Linked DNA regions of Homo sapiens. The protein of the gene in region 2 interacts with the protein of the main gene of each other region in a pairwise test. Each region holds a gene or a part of one and is shown on either strand. Other genes may lie near its edges.

Region 1 (9,230 bases), on a different chromosome or scaffold from region 2:
AGGGTGTCCACACTATGTACAAGATTGGGAGATAGAGGAGAGAGAAAGAAAGGGGATGGGCTGCAGGCTATGAACCAGCTCTCCTTGCACTGCCTCTCACTGACAGAAAATTGTTCCTTGGAGTCAAAGACTGACCAATAAAAAGTCAGTCTCCCAGGCTATTATGAAGGTATAGTTGGTCAAATAAGAGACTAGAACAAATTTCACTTAGTGATTTGGTATCTTGATTTATAACATTAACATATTTACATATACTATGCAGTATTTGGGTGCTTGCTGTACTCTTGTCCTAGGTCCTGCAATGTTCAGAGTGGACTTAGTTCCATAATGGTCACTCCCACACCTCACACAGGGAAGATATGCTACTACTTCAGTGCCTAAATTTCACAAGTGAAGCTAAACTGAGAATTTTATGTTTTATGCAAGTTCCAAAATTCAGGCTTGTTTTTTGATGTATGCAGTTTCCCATTCTTATTCACAGGGAAATAAAGTTAATTGAGCACGATAAGCTAAATATAACTAAACAAATTTCCAGACAGTTCACCTAAATGCCTCCAATCATATAAAGGCACCATCAGTGAGAAATGGCTACAGGGAGAGAGGGTTTACGATCATAGCTAAAGGGTGGAGACAGCTGTGAGCTCTGGAAGGTGACATACCTGTCCTTCTAGTTTAGCATCAAGGATAACTCTGTGCTAGATTACACGAACCATCCAGCCTCTGGGTATCCCAGTCATATTCCCAATATCAACCAAAGTTAATAATTTAGTGTACATTTACTATGGGTCAAGTACTTCGATATTCATTCTCTCATGTAACCCTCATCACTTGGGAAACAGAGGAAAAGAGGGGTTAAGGTCTCACAGCTGGTAAGTGGCTGAGACTTGGGCCTGGCTTTATATAAATCCAAAACCGATGCTATAATGAACATCTTTTTAAAATCTCATATTTTTAAATATACAATTTCCCACCTTTTAAATGTGGGGGAAAGAAGAATACTTTATTTCTAGCACTATAATGAGGAGTTAGAATGGCTATATTATCTACACAAAGAAAACTATTTATAAAATTATTTTCTTTATTATATGGACATAAAAACTTCAGGAGGCTAGTGTTTTGTCTATTAAATAATGAAATATGTAATACTTGGGTATTACTTATACTTGGGTATAAGGATGTTTTCCTTCTCTTGCCTCCTTAACAAGAGTCTAGGGGAAACTCTTAATGAGAAGTTCCCAAAAAAAAAGAAAAGAAAAGAAGGAAGGAAGGAAAGAAAGAAGGAAGGAAGGAAGGAGGGAAAGAAGGCAGACTCCAATCATTTATGAATTAAGGCCAAAATTGGAATTGGAAAAAAAATCAGAAGAATAACAATATCACATCCCCAAAATTACTATGCCTAGAAAATGACGTGAAATCACTGCTGCCACTGTAACCCTATTGGATGACAGGGTAGAGCTGTCAAAGTTTTGTAAAAAGTATTTTGGTCAGCCAAAAACAAAAACAAAACAGCAAAACTTTGGCTTCTACCCAACTAAATGCTGACATAATTCAATAGTTTTTCAATGATAACTTGAAAATAGTCAACAAGTAAAATATTCCTTTCTATTTACCTTTCATTGAAATCCATGATTAATTGTCTTTCACAACAGAAATAGCACATTCAGCTCTGAAAAGAACAATTTGTATTACTTTTCTCAAGATATGGTCTGGATATATGTTCTTTTGGTGCCAAGTTTAAGAAGTATTTTTCCCAACTTTTTAAACGTATATATTTATTACACACTCGATAACCAATCCTAAAAATAAATTGTTAAAATAAGAAGTAAGATGGCTCATGCCTGTAATCCCAGCACTTTGGGAGGCTGAGGCAGGAGGATCATTTGAGGCTAGGAGTTTGAGACCAGCCTGGGCAACATAGGGAGATCCCGTCTCTACAAAAGAGTGAAAAATTAGGTAGGCATGGTAGTGCATGCCTGTTTTCCAGCTACTTGGGAGGCTGAGGGGAAGGGATCACTTGAGCCCAGGAGGTGGAGGCTGCAGTGAGCCAAGATCACATCACTGTACAACAGCCTGGGCAACACAGTGAGACCCTGTCTCAAAAATAATAAGAAGATATATTAAAAAGGAAAGATCTTAACAGATGATGGTGTACATGAAAATGCCTATGGATGCACACGTCCCTTAAGTCAATGAGAGTAGAACCAGGCCCTGGTGAGGCAGGAGTCACATTTATGTAACGGCCTGTCCATTGGGGCTCTAGTCTAGCAAGGCTTGTTGTCAAGGGGAGTTACATAATCTCTTCCTTTTCCTTGGAGAGCTTTAATGGAGGGGAGGGAGAGACTACGATCTGTTAAGGGTGGTTTGGCTGCAATGCTGTCTGAAGGCATGAGAATGAACTCTAAGGCAGCTTCAGCATTGGAATAAGAGTCTGGGCCACACTCAACATCTTTGGAGTTCAACTGCTATCACTACCGTATTTGGCCACAGAAAGGAGGGGCCGTTCCAATCTTCCTTACAATTACTGCTCTAATTATTACATTATACTTTCACAATTTAATCCCTTTATTTGCCTCACTGCCTTTTTGGGGCTAAGTGAGCACCACAGTGTGATGTCTGATGATGTAGCTAGCAGGGTAGCCTCACCAAGTGCTGCGCAGCTGCCAGCTACAAGCACAGCCAGGTGGGCAAGTCCAGAGTGCTAATCTGGACAGTGACATCTCTGTCTCCTGCTCAAAATCCTTGAAACTTGCTCTCTCCAATACGGAGTAAAACTGAGCACATACATCAATGCCAAGAATCACCCTGTGCTTTGCTCTGTTAAGCTTTTGGTAGCATTTCAGCATCCTAAAGAATAATCATGCATAGAATTCCAATTGCTCTATTCTAATTATTGCTCAGTAAATAACTATTGCAGAGCTATTAATGTCTAACCTATAAAATGTTTTGAGACATGTATTAGGAAATTTTTTCACACTGTTATTCTATCTTTACAAAACATACCGAAGACTCGAGGGTTTAATCCCCTCAACCCTAAAAATTGTTACTTCCTCAAGGCAGGAGACATTTGTTAGAGGAATTCATCTCAATCCACAACCTTTGGGAACAAAGCTTTAATAAAATGTGGATAAGAGGACACTCCAACCAGCCTGCTGTCTGAATCACAGGTTCTCAGTAAATATTCGTTGAATAAATGGGAGTGGTTTTCACACTGAGAACCTCTTGCTTATATCAGCGCACTCAGTGCTCATGAATTTATCCCAAAATATTTGCTTATCTTTGTGTAGTTAAAATTCAGAGCTGTGTAAACTGAGTTAACAAAATCAAATTAATAACAGTTTGAATTGTATATACTTTGTAACCATAAGGATTATAACACTGTGGAACAATGGCTGGTAAACACCCAAAGATTTGAGGTGTGCTTTCATTCTCAAGTTTTGTAGTGTTACCAAATAGACTGAAGAGATTTCTCAAATGCTCAGAAGTGATGAAAAGCCTTGTGCACAGACCATTGTTTTTAGCTTTCTCGCTTTCCATGTGATTTTATATTTCATTTTAAACTTAAGTATTCTGAGGTTAATGCCTTCAATTTATAGATGAGGATAAAGAAAATAAAAATCCAGTAAATGAAAGATTTTTGTAAGAAAATATCAATAAATATAGCAACGATGAGCCAGAAATTATAAAGATACAGCTATGAAGATGTTTAGGACATTCATATGTACTGCATACTAACTTGGTTTTGTGCTCTTCATTTAAAACTATGAAAGGCTATGAAAAGATTAGGATTAAGTATCTCATCTACTATGTAAGAGTATGATGTCTTGAGAAATTGTGCTTTGGGTAAACTTTTTTTTTTTTTTTTTTTGAGACTGTGTCTAGCTCTGTCACCCCAGGCTGGAGTGCAATCATGGCTCACTGCAACCTCCAATTCCTGGGCTCAAGCAATCCTTCTGCCTCAACCTTTCCAGTAGCCACGACTACAGGTGCATGCCACCATGCTCAACTAATTTGTAAATTTTTTATAGAGACAGGGTTCTCACTTTGTTGCCCAGATTAATCTCTTGAACTTTTGGCCTTAAGGGATCCTCCAGCCTCAGCCTCCCAAAGTGGTGGGATTACAGGCATGAGCCACTGCACCTGACTAAGTAAACATTTTGATTGTGTTCTCATCAGCCACAGATCAAGGAAGTTATGTAACAGACAACAAAAAAGCAAGGGAGAGCCAGTACAAGTAAGGATTGTCACTAAAATATTCAGTGCAACTGATGAAGAAGAGTTGAATTTCCAGATGCTCTTAAAAGGGAAGGTGGGCCGGGCACGGTGGCTCATGCCTGTAATCCCAGCACTTTGGGAGGCTGAGGCGGGTGGATCACGTGAGGTCGGGAGTTCGAGACCAGCCTGGCCAATGTGGTGAAACCTTGTCTCTACTAAAAATACAAAATTAGAGAAGCGTGTTGGTGCATGCCTGTAATCCCAGCTACTTGGGAAGCTGAGGCAAGAGAATCACTTGAACCCAGGAGATGTAGGTTGCAGTGAGCCGAGATCATGCCATTGCCCTCTAGCCTGGGCCACAAGAGTAAAAATCTGCCTCAAAAAGAAAAAAAAAAGGGGGAGAAGGTGGGAGACTGCTCTATGTACACATAAAGGGTTTCAGAATCATGTTTTGTGAAAATATTTAAAAGGATTAGCACTTAACAAACATTACTTCTTTTGTACTTTGAAAACTAGTACGTCACAAAATTATGAAGGCTCCACATAAATTAGTTTCAGTTCTGTCCAGCAAGGGGCCATTAGATGATGATGGTCTATGGTCAGTGGTGAATCAGCAGTAGCATGGTCTAGAGCAGGGGGTCTAAATTTGAATTAGCATCAGGATTACCCAGAGGGTTGGTAAAATGCAGATTGCTAGGCCCACCCTCAGAGATTCTGTTTGAGTTAATACAGGATGGGGCCTGGGAACTTGCATTTCTTACATTTTCCCAGATGATGCTGGTACTGCTGGTACAGCCACTGCACTTTGAGAACTGTTGGCAAATAATACAACACAGTACAGTGCAGTGTTTCTTAACTTTGCCTTTACATTAAGCATCACCTAGGAAGCTTTCAAAAACCCCCCTTTCCCTGGCTGTACCCAAGACCAATTAATTCAGAATTTGGGGACATGAGCCCTGACATCAGCATGTTTTTTTAAGTCTTCCACTGATTCCAATGAGCTGGCAAGCTTGAGAACCACTGATATGTGGGAAGATAGACTTTGTGTCCATAACTGGTTGTTAGGAAGACACATTTTGTAAACCACTGAGCAGAACCATTGGTGTGCTGTGGATCCTCAAAATATATTTTTTTCTTCCCCTATTTTCTTCAAAAGTGAATTACAAGAGACCTAAAAACGTGAAATCTAATTTTTTTGCCAGAATATATATCTATAGCTTTTTCATGAACTGAATTCTAGATCTGTAGATTACCAGTTTAAAAGGGCATAAACAAATTTCAGTCCTATTTTTCTACACTGTATGGCGGAAATAATGTTATTTATAAATCTGAAATCTATGAAGTTTGGGGTATATATCACTTATATATGTTGGAGGTATATTTTATCATTCAATGCCATTTTATTGGTATAATTTGGAAGGTTTTTTTTAATATAAATTCATTTAAAAGTTAGAAAAAGTATATCCAACCATAAGGAAAAAAGAAAGATGAGTAGGTAATTAAATTTGTCTAGAGCAGTGATTCTTAAAATTGGTCCCTGGACCGGCAGCATCATCAGCATTACCTGAAAATTTGTTAAAAATATACAATCTCAGGCAGGCCCCCACCCCAGATCTAATGAATCAGAAATTCTGGAGGTAGGACCCAGGAATCTGCATTTTAACAAGATTTCCAGATGATTTTAATGCACACTCAAGTTTGGAAATCACTGGTCTAAAGTATTTATTATTTCCATGCATCTGTAAGAAGATCCAAAGGGGTCAAAAACACTGTTAGTCCAATGTGCATTTGTACAGTTGCTATATAGACCCACATTGCTCTAATAATAACTATGCTCTTGTAAACTCTACCCAAAGTTTATTATCCTTGCACCATTAAAGCTTAACAGTAAGAGGAAAATTAATAGATATGGAGTATATCTGGGGGGATTTTATTCTATAAATCTTCCACTATCAATTGTAATCTATTTCCATTTTCTACTCAAGAGAGAATTAAAACTATGATACTTGACTTATGAGAATAAGAATAAGGAAAAACAAAAACCCATCATGTGAGGTTGGAAGTGGGGAGAGTATTCCCAGGTCCGACACTAACCTTGAATTGTCCTCTTGAAGAATGCCTTGCAGGCTTCACATGATGCTACCCCATAGTGGTACCCAGAAGCGATGTCACCACACACTAAACACAGTCTCTTGGGCATCGAGTTGAGCATGTATTCACACTTGGTCTGGGGATCTTCAACAATGGTGCTGGAGCAGTCATCATACAGTTTCCTGACAGGCCCACTACCTCCCAGGATAGGAGCAGAAGGGTAGAGAGGTGGCGAGTCAAGTCCGTTCTGATGGCCATTCATGGTTGAACTGTAGCTCCCACTGGCGTCTGAAGAGCCACCAGGGCTGTGGTGGTTGACGCTGTCCGTCAGGGAGGCTGGGCTGGAAGGTTCCGTCTTGATGAAGGACGAACAGCTGGAATCAATGTGTCGATCTTTGTTTGACATTCTGCAGAGAAGCCTGAGATTGAGGAGATACAAAGAGAGACAGAAAGAGGAGAGAGTGTCAAGCACAGAGACCAAAAGAGGTAGAAACAAAAGAGATGGTGAAAAATAGAGAAAGGGAAAGGGAAAGGTAAAAGGAGGAAAAAAACAGAATTCATATGTTAAAGACATTGCTCTTTGAGAGAGTTTCCTAAGGGCTAGGGACTACACATCATTCATTCTCTAGTCAATACTTCTTGTTCTACAAGAAGGTAATCAGCATAAGGGCATGACAGGGTTACAACAAAGGGCCCAGACAGGCCATAAACAAAAGCTCTAAAGAGTCCGATTGCTTTTATTTTACCTTTCTCTTGGAGAACCAGTGTCAATATCTAACTCAACTCTAGATTCTAAATTTATCAATGGAAGAGGTGGTGATTTGCAAAGTCTATACCATTTCTAAAATTGTATTTATCCTCATTCTACCTTTCCTTCCTCATTCTGATGCTGCAATCATTTTATTATGAGCAGAATAAAACTTTTATTTTCAAGACTGAACAGATGATCCTCAGCTCTGTAATTACTGTTTGTCAGCACGCTTCCATAAGCATAACTGTGTCTTATTGATCTGACTAAAACACATAGGGAATATATCCTCAATCACTTTGTTTCTTTATTTAAATTGCTCTATTTCATAGCCATTTGGCAATATAGAAAGACATCAAGTATAAAATTCCAGCCAATATTTAAAGATTATTCCTAGAGCCTGCAAAACTTAGTGACTCATCACCAACATTCATTAATAAATACGTGCATGTGTTTCTTATGTGTGATTTGCCATTATTTAAGAGATGAATCAGTAAAAGCCATTTGAGCCTTCAGTATACCTGTAAGTCCACAAATCTGATATTATATGTATATTATCTGATACTATAAAATCTGATGTTATATTTACATTCAGTAAAGTAGAAATGTAGCATATTTTGTCCTAAAAAATATATTTGTGATGGTCCTTCCCCCACTTCTTTTTGCCATTTAACATTATACCTCCTAAAAGGAAAAATGATGAAACATCTAATCTGACACACTGTTTCTCTTATCTAGAAGAAACACTTCATCCCTTTTTCTTTGTTGTTCTCACAAGTGACCGAATTTCTGGAAAGGTAATTAGATGAAAAGATATAATTGGTCCTATTTTCTTTTCATTTAGCCATTGTGCAAAACCTCGTTTAGCAAAATGTCTAAGAAGCTTCTGAGAGCCCACTACAGAAAGAAGAGGTGACAGTCAAGAAAGGGACTTAGATAATTGCCTCCCAGTGGAAAATTGATTTATGGGAATCCCTCTGGGTAATGGTCATTCACTAGAATTTGGGGGACTCATCACAGGATAACCAAAGGGATGCAATTATCTCTTTCACTATAAATCTAATGATATTTGATCATTGCACAAATTTCATGCCCTCCTCCAGGTCCTCCATTGTTCTGTTACTTCAAAATGAAGAAAAATATGGAACTTTTCTGGCAGGAAGTTTCACTTAACTGTTCCAAGAAGGCGGTCTCAGGAGCAAAGCGTTGAGGCAAGATTTGCCTCTTACCAAAGATATTTCACTTTGAGAAATCTTGCACAGCTTTCTGAAGTCAAGCAGTATCAGGATGTGAAGAAAGCAAATAGGAAGGCGAAAGCCACGAAAATATCTTCGTACTTTCGCCCACCCACTTGTGTTGTCCTTTCCTCAAGAACTAGCGAAAGAAAAAAATATCCCCCTCGCCAGCCTGAACTACGGCGTCCTCTCTCTTCTGCATCTGCTGCCTTGTACCCGTCACTGTTAATGAACGTTGTAATTAATAGATCGCTCTCCTTGTCTCCTTAGCACTCTGGGCTAAGCACTTTCCTCAAGTCATCGTTTGAAAGAAAGCGGGTCGGCACTGACTTACAGCAGCCCTGTGAATTCCTTTTAATTTAGAGCACTTACACCACCACTTCACTTATTACCTTATAATTACTGGACTGTGGGCACATACATTATGATCTTAGACTAGAGTTAGAAGTTTTTAGGGTACTAAACCATGCTTGCTCCCCTTTCCTCTCTCCAGCACTGAATTTCCCACAGCTATGACAATTAACTCTTTCACCATCTGCCTACAAGGCACCGTTTTTTAATTTGGAATTTTTTTTTTCTTTTTTTTTTTTTTATCCAGAGGAGAGTTGCTTGGGGCTGCTTGATCTTCAGACCCTCTTTTTAAATTTTTTTTCCCTCTCTCTCTTTTCCTGTATCTTCCATGGTCACTTTCACCCCAATTTTCTTTTTTTCAGGCTCTTCCTCATGGACTTGCAAAATTTGCAGAACTCTTGATTTAAAGAACAAGGCCAGAAATTGCCCTCCCATTTATGGATCAGTTATTTGCTAAGCCATCAAATATTTATGTGTCAAATGCATGTTGTTAAAGTCCCTGAAAAATAGGGACTCTCCAGCAAGTTGTCTCATCGAAAATCTCAGTCCATAACTTGGCAATAGGCTGGATAAAACAAGGAAATTCGGGACGT
Region 2 (9,230 bases):
TTTTCTGCATTGCATTTGTATGGACATTGAAAAATGCACACAAATTATTCATTCTAATTTCTGCTACCGAAGAAATATGGGTGTAAAAGGCTAAGTACCAAACTTCAAACTGTATTATAGATGATTCACTAGTAGGGAAGAATAGCTAAAAACAACCATTAACATGAATCAACAAATGCAATTCCTTAGGCCAATGTTTTCTATATTTCTTTAAATACACTGTGATAAGTAAAGATTCTAATGCTCTTGAGCATATTAAATATTGCTTCCTGAGAGCTACACGTTACACATGGAAGAAATATAACACTAATGGCATGAACTCACATGAGCAACAATCTCTACAGAGTCCCGGACAACGTCAGGCACCTGGCAGGCACTCACTGTGTGCTTAGTGAATTCAAATCACCAAATGGAGGAAAAACTGCTATTTACAATCACAACTGCCTTCTGAGGAGGGCGGATCCCCCATTACAGGACAGTGCCTGGTGCCTGCCTTTGCTTCTGCTGACTGGCTTAAATATTCAGAGGTAGGCCCCGTGTGAGCTGAAGATAAAGGCTGAAGAGGATGAACTGCTCTGCACAAGAATGAAAAGACTTGAATGAGGTACGTGGAGACAGCCTGAAGAGGTGGGGAGAAGATGTAGGAAGAAGAAAACATTTGGGGGCGGAGGGTAAGGGAGAGAGAAGCAAGCAAGACAGTGTGAAGATGGCTAGCAAAACGTCCCTGCACATGCTTCTACTTTTGGCCGTATGGCAGACCATACCCTCTGAAAGGCCTTCTTGCAGGGGAATAACTAGATCTTTCACAAAACAGAATTCTGTGGCATTGCTGAAGTTGCAGTGGTTAATGGAAACCGGGGTGTGAGTGTGTATGAGTGTGTCTGCACATGAGAAACAGAACCCTGAAAATACAGCAAAGGAAGTAAGCCAGCTCCAAAGGCAGGCCTGCTCTGGGTGGAGACGCAGTGTTCGCAGGCAGGCCGGGGCCCAACCTGAGACTCCTGGATCAAGCTGAGCTAAAAATGGCCCCAACCTGGTATGATCCTGTGGTTCCCAAGAGCAACAAATGCAAATCTTCCCGGAAGGAAAGCGCTCTCGATTTATGCTCACTGCTTTGTTTATTTTCAGATTAAGAGTGAGTAAATATTAGCTCCTAACCAAAGGTCACAAAACAAACAGGATTTTTATAAAGTTAATAAAAAAACTAGAAAATTGGAAGACAAATCTTAAGAAATTATGCAGAACACCACGCAGAGAGACACGACGATGCAGAAGAGATAAGGAAGATGGAAAGACGAGGTTTACAAAAGTCCGCTCGTCTCAGAAGAAGAGAATAAGAATGAACGAGATGCCTATTTGAAGAAATAATGGGTGGGAGAGTTTTTCAGAATGAATCAAAGAATCCATAAACAAAAACGCAATGTATTCCAAACAGGACAAGTAAAATGAAATCTGCATTTGGACAGAATATATTAAAACAGCAATATATCAAAGGTAAGGAGAAAATCTGAAAAACAGCCAGAGAGTTAAGACACATCACTCCGAAGCAGGAACCACGTAGACGGACAGGAAACTTCTCAACAGCAAGGATGGAAGGCAGAAGACTGCAGAATGGGGGAGACAATGATTTTCCACTTCCATTTCCACACTCAGCTAAACAGACTTACAGAAAAGGTGGATGAAAGAAAAGACACTTGTTGGTAAAAACTGAGTTGACCATTAACAGGCTGCCCTTAAATAACTTCTAAAAATAACTTCAGGAAGAAGAGAAGATAAATGCTTTTAGAAGGAACATTTGAGAAGAAAGAACAGGTGAGTAAACAAATGGGCAAACATGTTGGTGGATCTAAAATCAAACAAAACCAGCCAAACCAATGAGAAAATAAAACATTGTGAGGCCGGGCGGCATGGTGGCTCACACCTGTAATCCCAGCACTTCGGAAGGTTGAGGTGGGTGGATTACTTAAGTCCAGGAGTTCAAGACCAGCCTGGGCAATGTGGCGGAACCCCGTCTCTACAAAAAATACAAAAATTGGCCAGGCGCGGTGGTTCATGCCTGTAATCCCAGCACTTTGGGAGGCCGAGGCAGGCGGATCACGAGGTCAGGAGATCGAGACCATCCTGGATAACACGGTGAAACCCCGTCTCTACTAAAAATACAAAAAAATAGCCGGGCGTGGTGGCAGGCGCCTGTATTCCCAGCTACTCGGGAGGTTGAGGCAGGAGAATGGCGTGAACACAGGAGGCGGAGTTTGCAGTGAGCCGAGATCACGCCACTGCGCAGCCTGGGTGACAGAGCGAGACTCCGTCTCAAAAAAAAAAAAAAAAAAAATTAGCCAGGTGCGGTGGCACACGCCTGTAGTGCCAGCTACTTGGGAGGCTGAGGCAGAAGGATAGTTTGATGTTGAGCAAGCAGGCTGCAGTGAGCTGAGATGGTGCCACTGCACTCCAGCCTGGGCAATAGTGGAGACCCTGTCTCAAAAAAAAAAAAAAAAAAGGAAAGAAAAGAAAAAGAAAAAGGAAAGAAAAACAAAACACTGTGGCATTTCCTTACATTAAGTAGTTCTGCCCATAAAGAAAAAGGCAAAAGCCACCCACTGTGAAGAGGTGCTTGCAACACAGTTACCCTAAAAGGGGTTACTGACTAGGATTAGAGTAACACTGGGATAACATTGAAACTGTTCTGGTGCTGAGTTGGGTGGACAGCGGCGGGGTCGTTTTGTTGTTACATTTCATACTGTATACCCAAACATACTGTATTGTGTGTATCAATTATTACATAACAAAAAACTTTTCACCAATAAAAATACATGGATATAATACAGAAGAAACTCAAATGGTGGATAAACACAGATTTTCAATCTTATTAGTAATACGAAATGCAAATTAAGACCCCAATAAGATAATATCTTACACCCATTTGATTGGCTAGTGAATTAAGAAGTCTGAGAATTTCAAGTTTTTGTTGAAGAGCTAAAAGTTAAGAATCTCATCTATTGCTGGTGGAAGTGTAAATTTATTTTGCTGGAAAATAATCTGTCACTTGTAATGTAGTCTACCTGCCCACAACACTCAGCAATTTCACTCATGGACTTAGACCCTAGAGAGATACTGTTGCTCCTACACCCCAGGAGACGGGTACAAGAACCAGCCGTCCATCTGTAGCAGAGTGGCCTGTGTGCTCACACGGGCAGTGGACACGGGGTGGCGGCGGTGAGGGCTTCCTAGAAGATGGAATGCTTGGGCCATTCTGGGAGAAGAGAAGTCAGCAAACAAGTGAAGGAGTGGGAAGGGAGCGGGAAGGGCCCACACAAGGAGGCAGGAGCCCGCCACCTGCTGCAGGGACCCAGGTGGTCTCGGATGGCTGGACACTGGTGGTTGGGAGGGGAAAGTGGGGGGAGGGGACCTGGAGAGGCAGAGGCCGGGCCACTCATTCCGTGAGCAAAGTGAAGGAGCCTGAACTTTATCAGGAAAGTTGTGGGGAGTCCTGGAAGGCTTAAAGTAAGACACCATGAGATTCACATATTGCTGAATTGCTATCAGAGCATCATGGAAGGCAGACTGGTAGGAGGCAAGGACCTGGACCGGTTGGAGAGGCACAGAATCAGCCCAGACGGGACCAACGAGGCTGGCGGGAGCCTGGTGGGAGGGAGAGAGGGGTAGGGCAAGATGGGGCCACTCAGAGCCCAGCAGAAGAGAAGAGTGCAGTGAGCTGCAGGCCGCAGTGTGGGGGATGTGGTCTGGAAGGTTTCCTCACTTTTGTGAGCCCCCGTTTTTCACTTGACAAGCAGGCTGAGAATCAGAGACCTTACATGGATATCACGTTGTTAAAGACTTTAGCTCACGGCAGGCACTCAATAAATAGTAATTAAAATATTATTTTCAGGGAGAAAGAGTATTATTTATAATGACAAGAAATTTAGCAGAAGGGACAGGCCTAGAGAGAAGATCATGAATTCAGTATTAGACAGACTGAATTTAAAGTAGGTGTGAGACAACCAGATAAGAAAATTGAATAAAAAGTTGAATAAGGCAACATAGTGAGAACTCGTCTTTTTCTTTTCTTTCTGTTTTTTTCTTTTGGTTGTTGTTGTTGCTGTTGTTGGGACAGGGTCTCGCCTCTGTCACCCAAGCTACAGTGCAGTGGTGTAATCACAGATCACGGCAGCCTCAACCTCCCCGGCTCAGGTGATCCTCCACCTCAGCCTCCCAAATGGCTGGGACTACAGGCACATGCCACCACACCTGACTACGTTTTGTATTTTTTTGTAGACACGGGGTCTTGCTACGTTGCCCAGGCTGGTCTTGAACTCCTGGGCTCAAGTGATCCTCCTGCCTCAGCCTCCCAAAGTGCTGGGATTACAGGTGTGAGCCACCACACCCAGTGAGAATTTGTCTCTTAAAAAAAAACAACAGTCGAACATGTGGGGTTTGGGAGTTAGGTGGAGCAAGGAGCTGAGTGAAGCTACTCAGGTGTGAGGTGTGAGGGTAAGAGGGGAGCAGAGCACTGAGGGTGACGCCTGGAGGACCCCAACACTGTGGCCCACATGGGGGAGCAGGCACGTGTCAGCCAGGGAACAGCCTGAGAGAGGAGGGAAGTCGGGAGAACACGGTGGCAAGAACTTCCAGACAGAGAAAGCTTCAAGAAGAGGGGTGTAACCAATGGCGCACACATCATGAGCATGTTCTCAAACGCTGCAGAATGACCAAGGAGCCAAGAGGAGGTGCGTGGTGGGGGCTTGGTCTCTAGCACACTGGCGGGCCACAGCCATCTTGACACAAGTTAGGAGAGGATGGGGGATGAAAAAGAAAGAGTAGCCAGGAGGGGAAGTAGCGAGACGTCAGAGAGTAAAGAGTGCTGCGCTACTGAGAGACTCTTGCTTTCATCAAGAAAGGAAAGTCAGAGCAACTGCACACAGTGAGTTCCCACTGCGGTGACCGAGGCAAGGGAGTAAGTGCTGACAGTGCCCGGGGTTGAAGGGCCGTGACACAGGCACGTGCAAGGTGTGGCGGGGTCCAGGAGGGAGAGCACCGCCAGGTCTCAGGGCTCCGGGACGCCATCCCAGACGCGGAGGCCCAAGGAGCTGTGTCAGGGGTGAATATGCCCTGGCAGAGGATGTGGCTGAGGGGAAGGCTGGTGCAAGCTGGCACAGCAGCAGTTGCAAAGGCGAAGAGGCATGAGGGGGAAGCTTGTTCCAGGAATGGCCATTTATCCCACGTGGGAGAGGCACCGGAAGGATGAGGAGAAAGGGGAGATGGGAGAATGTCCGGGGAGGGGCTGGCAGGAGGGGCCAGCCAAACTGCACGGACTTTGCTGGTTAGTGAAGGATTTTAAGTCCTCTAGTGGAATTAAGTGATTAGATTTTTGCCTTACAAAGGAAACTCTCCTATGGAGAACAAACTACCATATGAAGCTAGCGGCCTAAACCAGGAGAATGTGGGGAAAGAAGAGAGGTGAGGATAACTGGAGGGGTATTATGTAACAACAGAAAGCATCACAGTTCAATGAACAGGGCAAGGTGGGCAAATGAAGAGGGCAGAGGAGGACTGGGCCCTCGAGGGATGCATCTGGGACTCTGCCTGGATGCCGGGTCATCTGCAGGCCATGAACTGAGATAGTGATTATGGGAAAGAACAAGTGGGCAGGGGTCAGTGAGGAGAGTTTCAGTAGAGGGGGCTAGAATGGGCCAGAGAGGGAGATGGGGCAGAATGGACTAAAGAAGGAAGGAAAGGAGGATCCCTAGAAGCAGGGAATGCAGGTGGCTCTTTCCATAAGTTTGTGGGAAAGAATAAAGAATGGGAAGATAGTAACCACAGGTAGGAGTGGCAACTTTCTGGAGGAAGAATTGTGCCCACTTTTGCAGGCTGAGAGGACTGACCCAGTGGAGAGAATTTAAGGATACAGGAGAGGGAGGAAGAACTCAAGGCAGCCTGTCCTAGAGGCCGCGGGAGGGGACAGACCCTTCACAGAGCGGAATGGCCTACTGTGCACAAGATGGATACCAGGCAGGAGCAAAATAAGGACAAGCAGGAGCACAGACAGGACTGGCAACCACATCAGACTCACCGTAAGAGCTTCATATTCATTTAAAAAACAGAAAGACTGTGAAGAACTACAATTCTACAACAGAACGCTGCCACTAAGTAGCGTACTTAAAAGTCACGTGAATTGTCGAATAGCTGAAAAAGACTAGACTTGTGATATTCTAGCGAAGAGATCTGTACACCTTTTATGTAAAGGGCCAGAGAGTAAATAAATATTTTAGGTTTTGCTGGCCAAGAAGCAAAATCAAAGACATTATGTAGATACTTACACATGAGGAGAGAAAACACCTGACCCACCTAGTCCTAAGTGTCTGGGGCAGGCCATCTGGGATCCACTAGACTCACACTTGGACAAAAAGCTAGTGGCCTGAGGAAGAGGGTCCTGGTGGGCCAGGCTGGCAGGTGGGGGTAGTAGGGTAACGCAGGTCAGTTTCACTTCTTGTCCTAGCAACCCCTAGATCCTGGTGCACCCTTCTTTCCTCCCAAGAGCCTGGTCATCTCAATGGGGCAGCTTGCTGGAGGCTAAGCAACTCCTGAGTTGCTGACTGAAATTCCATGGCTGGGTGCCTGCTCATTGCCAACAGTCACCCCTGTGTAGTGACCACCAGTGCAGGTCTGGGGCAGCAATGCTGGGTGGTAAAGGGACACCCCAGCTTGGTCTCTGTGACTCACAGCACTAGCCACCTCGATTGGTACGTGGGCTGCACAAAAGTGGGAGGCAGGCTAGGTGTAATGCACAGGCTGAAGTTCACTGGCCCCTATTCCAGTGCCTGTAAAGACCTCAGGCTGGGCGTGGGGGCTCACGCTGGTAATCCCAGCACTTTGGGAGGCCAAGGCAGGTGGATCACCTGAGGTCGGGAATTCGAAACCAGCCTGACCAACATGGAGAAACCCCGTCTTTACTAAAAAACACAAAATTAGCCAGGCATGGTGGCACATGCCTGTAATCCCAGCTACTTGGGAGGGTGAGGCAGGAGAATCGCTTGAATCCAGGAGGAAGAGGTTGTGGTGAGCTGAGATCGCACGACTGCACTCCAGCCCAGGCAACAAGAGTGAAACTCAAACTCAAAAAAAAAAAAAAAAAACCTCAAAGACAGGCTTGAAGGACAACGTTAAAGCATGCAAATAGCACAGAAATTCTTTTAATCAAAATAAAAGGTTTCATATTTGTATCCAGTGATTCTTTTCCACACTCAACATTATTTTCTTTCCTCCCCCATCTCTCTCTCACTCCTGTCACCCAGGCAAAAGTGCAGTGGCACAATCATGGCTCACTGCAGCCTCGACCTCCTGGGCTCAAGCGATCCTTCTGCCTTGAGCTCCCAAAGTGCTGGGATTACAGGCATGAGCCACTGTGCCTGGCCTCACAGTATTTTAAATGAGATTATTAATAACACTTCACACCACCCCCTCCTTCCCTGAAGTTCATTATCAGTAGTAGTAAATAGAAATAGTGATTTTACTTAGCCTTTTCCTGAGCCATGGAAGTTTCACTCCTGGAAACAGAAAGCTTTAAAACTCAGACTGGTTAAACTGCATTACTTTTCTGAGAACTCGTTATTCTTCCTACCTGAGAGTTGAGAACTAGAAGCACGAGAGATGTGTCTTGTCAACATATCCCACAATAAGAGATGAGATGCGGAGAGAGGGGAAGGATCTGCCGTCCCGGCATCTCCCCTTCGCAGAACCTACCCTCATATATCATGCTGTCTTCGTCAGTGACGTAGGCGTTGGCGCCCCAGATCACCATCTTGTGGATGTAAGATGGATATTTTGCAGCAGCAATGAGTGCGGTTATGCCCCCATCACTCCACCCCAGCAGAGAAACCTTCTTAAACTTCAGCGCCTATGATCATACGACAAAATGCACGGCACGGGTTATTGCTCCTCTCTGTTAAAAGAAACTGAATCACTAATTATCAGAATCAATACAGGTGTGAGGCTGGAGTATCAATTAGTCAGAAAAGAAAAACCCTAGAGTCCACCATTTGATGACATCATGTTTTCTCTTAATTACTTTTAGTGGAAATTGTCACAAAAACCTGAGCATACGGTATGGGTTTGAATTAGGAGGGAACTACATCTTCTGGTTGGATAAAAAGCTCAAGGAACTAGAATCAATGGAGACCAAGTACTTAAATATGACAAATACAGCATACGTGTGTATGCGTGTGCACGTGTGTGCATATGCATGCCTGAGCAAGGACCTTGAGAACAGTTCTGTAGATCAGAGAGGGGACCCTGAGCTCTGCTGGATGGAGTGAAGCAGGGTATCTGGTAAAGCAACTGTGGGAAGAACTGGCAAGAGCCAGGCTGTCAGAGAACAGCGTCATGGGGAGGTTGTGTGAGTCCGCGGGTGAATCAGAGAGGGTCTGGACATGCGTTTGGCAGGGAAAATGGACAAAGATTACATCTTAGAGAGGCCGCCAAGAAAAAAGAATGGAATGACTGGAAAATTAAAGGTAAAGAATTAATATTACTCCAAGATATTTGCTGCCCGGACCATAAAATGGTGTAACTACTGTGGCACTATCCTGCAAAATGAACATCTGGAACTTCCATCACCTAGCAAATTGTCTCCTAAATGTGTATGAAATTCTCCCTGTGTGCCAGGAGCTCAGTCCAGGATGTCCACAACAATACTGTTTATAGTGGCAAAAAAATGAAAATGCCCACGAGCAACAGAATGTTCACTGCCTGCTATTTATAACAGCAGAAAAAGGCAACTTAAAAATTAAGTTAATTATCTACTATTAGAAAACTGGTGAAATAGGCCAGGTGTGGTGGCTCATGCCTGTAATCCCAGCACTTTGGGAGGCCAAGGTGGGTGGATCATGAGGTCAGGAGATCGAGACCATCCGGACTAATGCGATGAAACCCTGTCTCTACTAAAAATACAAAAATTAGCTGGGCATAGTGGCATGTGCCTGTAATCCCAGCTACTCAGGAGGCTGAGGCAGGAGAATCGTTTGAACCCGGGAGGCAGAGGTTGCAGTGAGCCAAGATTGCGCCACCGCACTCCAGCCTGGGTGACAGAGCAACACTCTGTCTCAAAAAAAAAAAAAGAAAATTGGTGAAATAAGATACAGTACATCCATACAATGGAATAATATGTGCCTATCATACAACTAGTATAAATGCATATTTATTGACATGAAAGTTATTTCCTTGAAAAATTGTTCAAC

Evidence for each region.
Region 1: the proteins of BPHL (region 2) and ESRRG interact in binary tests that used the Homo sapiens proteins (3 or more experiments, as listed by UniProt).

What each region holds. Positions count from the first base shown.
Region 1 is NC_000001.11:216,670,770-216,679,999, forward strand, and holds part of ESRRG (estrogen-related receptor gamma), read right to left. Parts: intron 6,723-9,230; coding exon 6,307-6,722; intron 1-6,306. UniProt on the Homo sapiens protein: Orphan receptor that acts as a transcription activator in the absence of bound ligand. Binds specifically to an estrogen response element and activates reporter genes controlled by estrogen response elements.
Region 2 is NC_000006.12:3,127,706-3,136,935, reverse strand, and holds part of BPHL (serine hydrolase BPHL isoform 1 precursor), read right to left. Parts: intron 7,892-9,230; coding exon 7,738-7,891; intron 1-7,737. UniProt on the Homo sapiens protein: Specific alpha-amino acid ester serine hydrolase that prefers small, hydrophobic, and aromatic side chains and does not have a stringent requirement for the leaving group other than preferring a primary alcohol.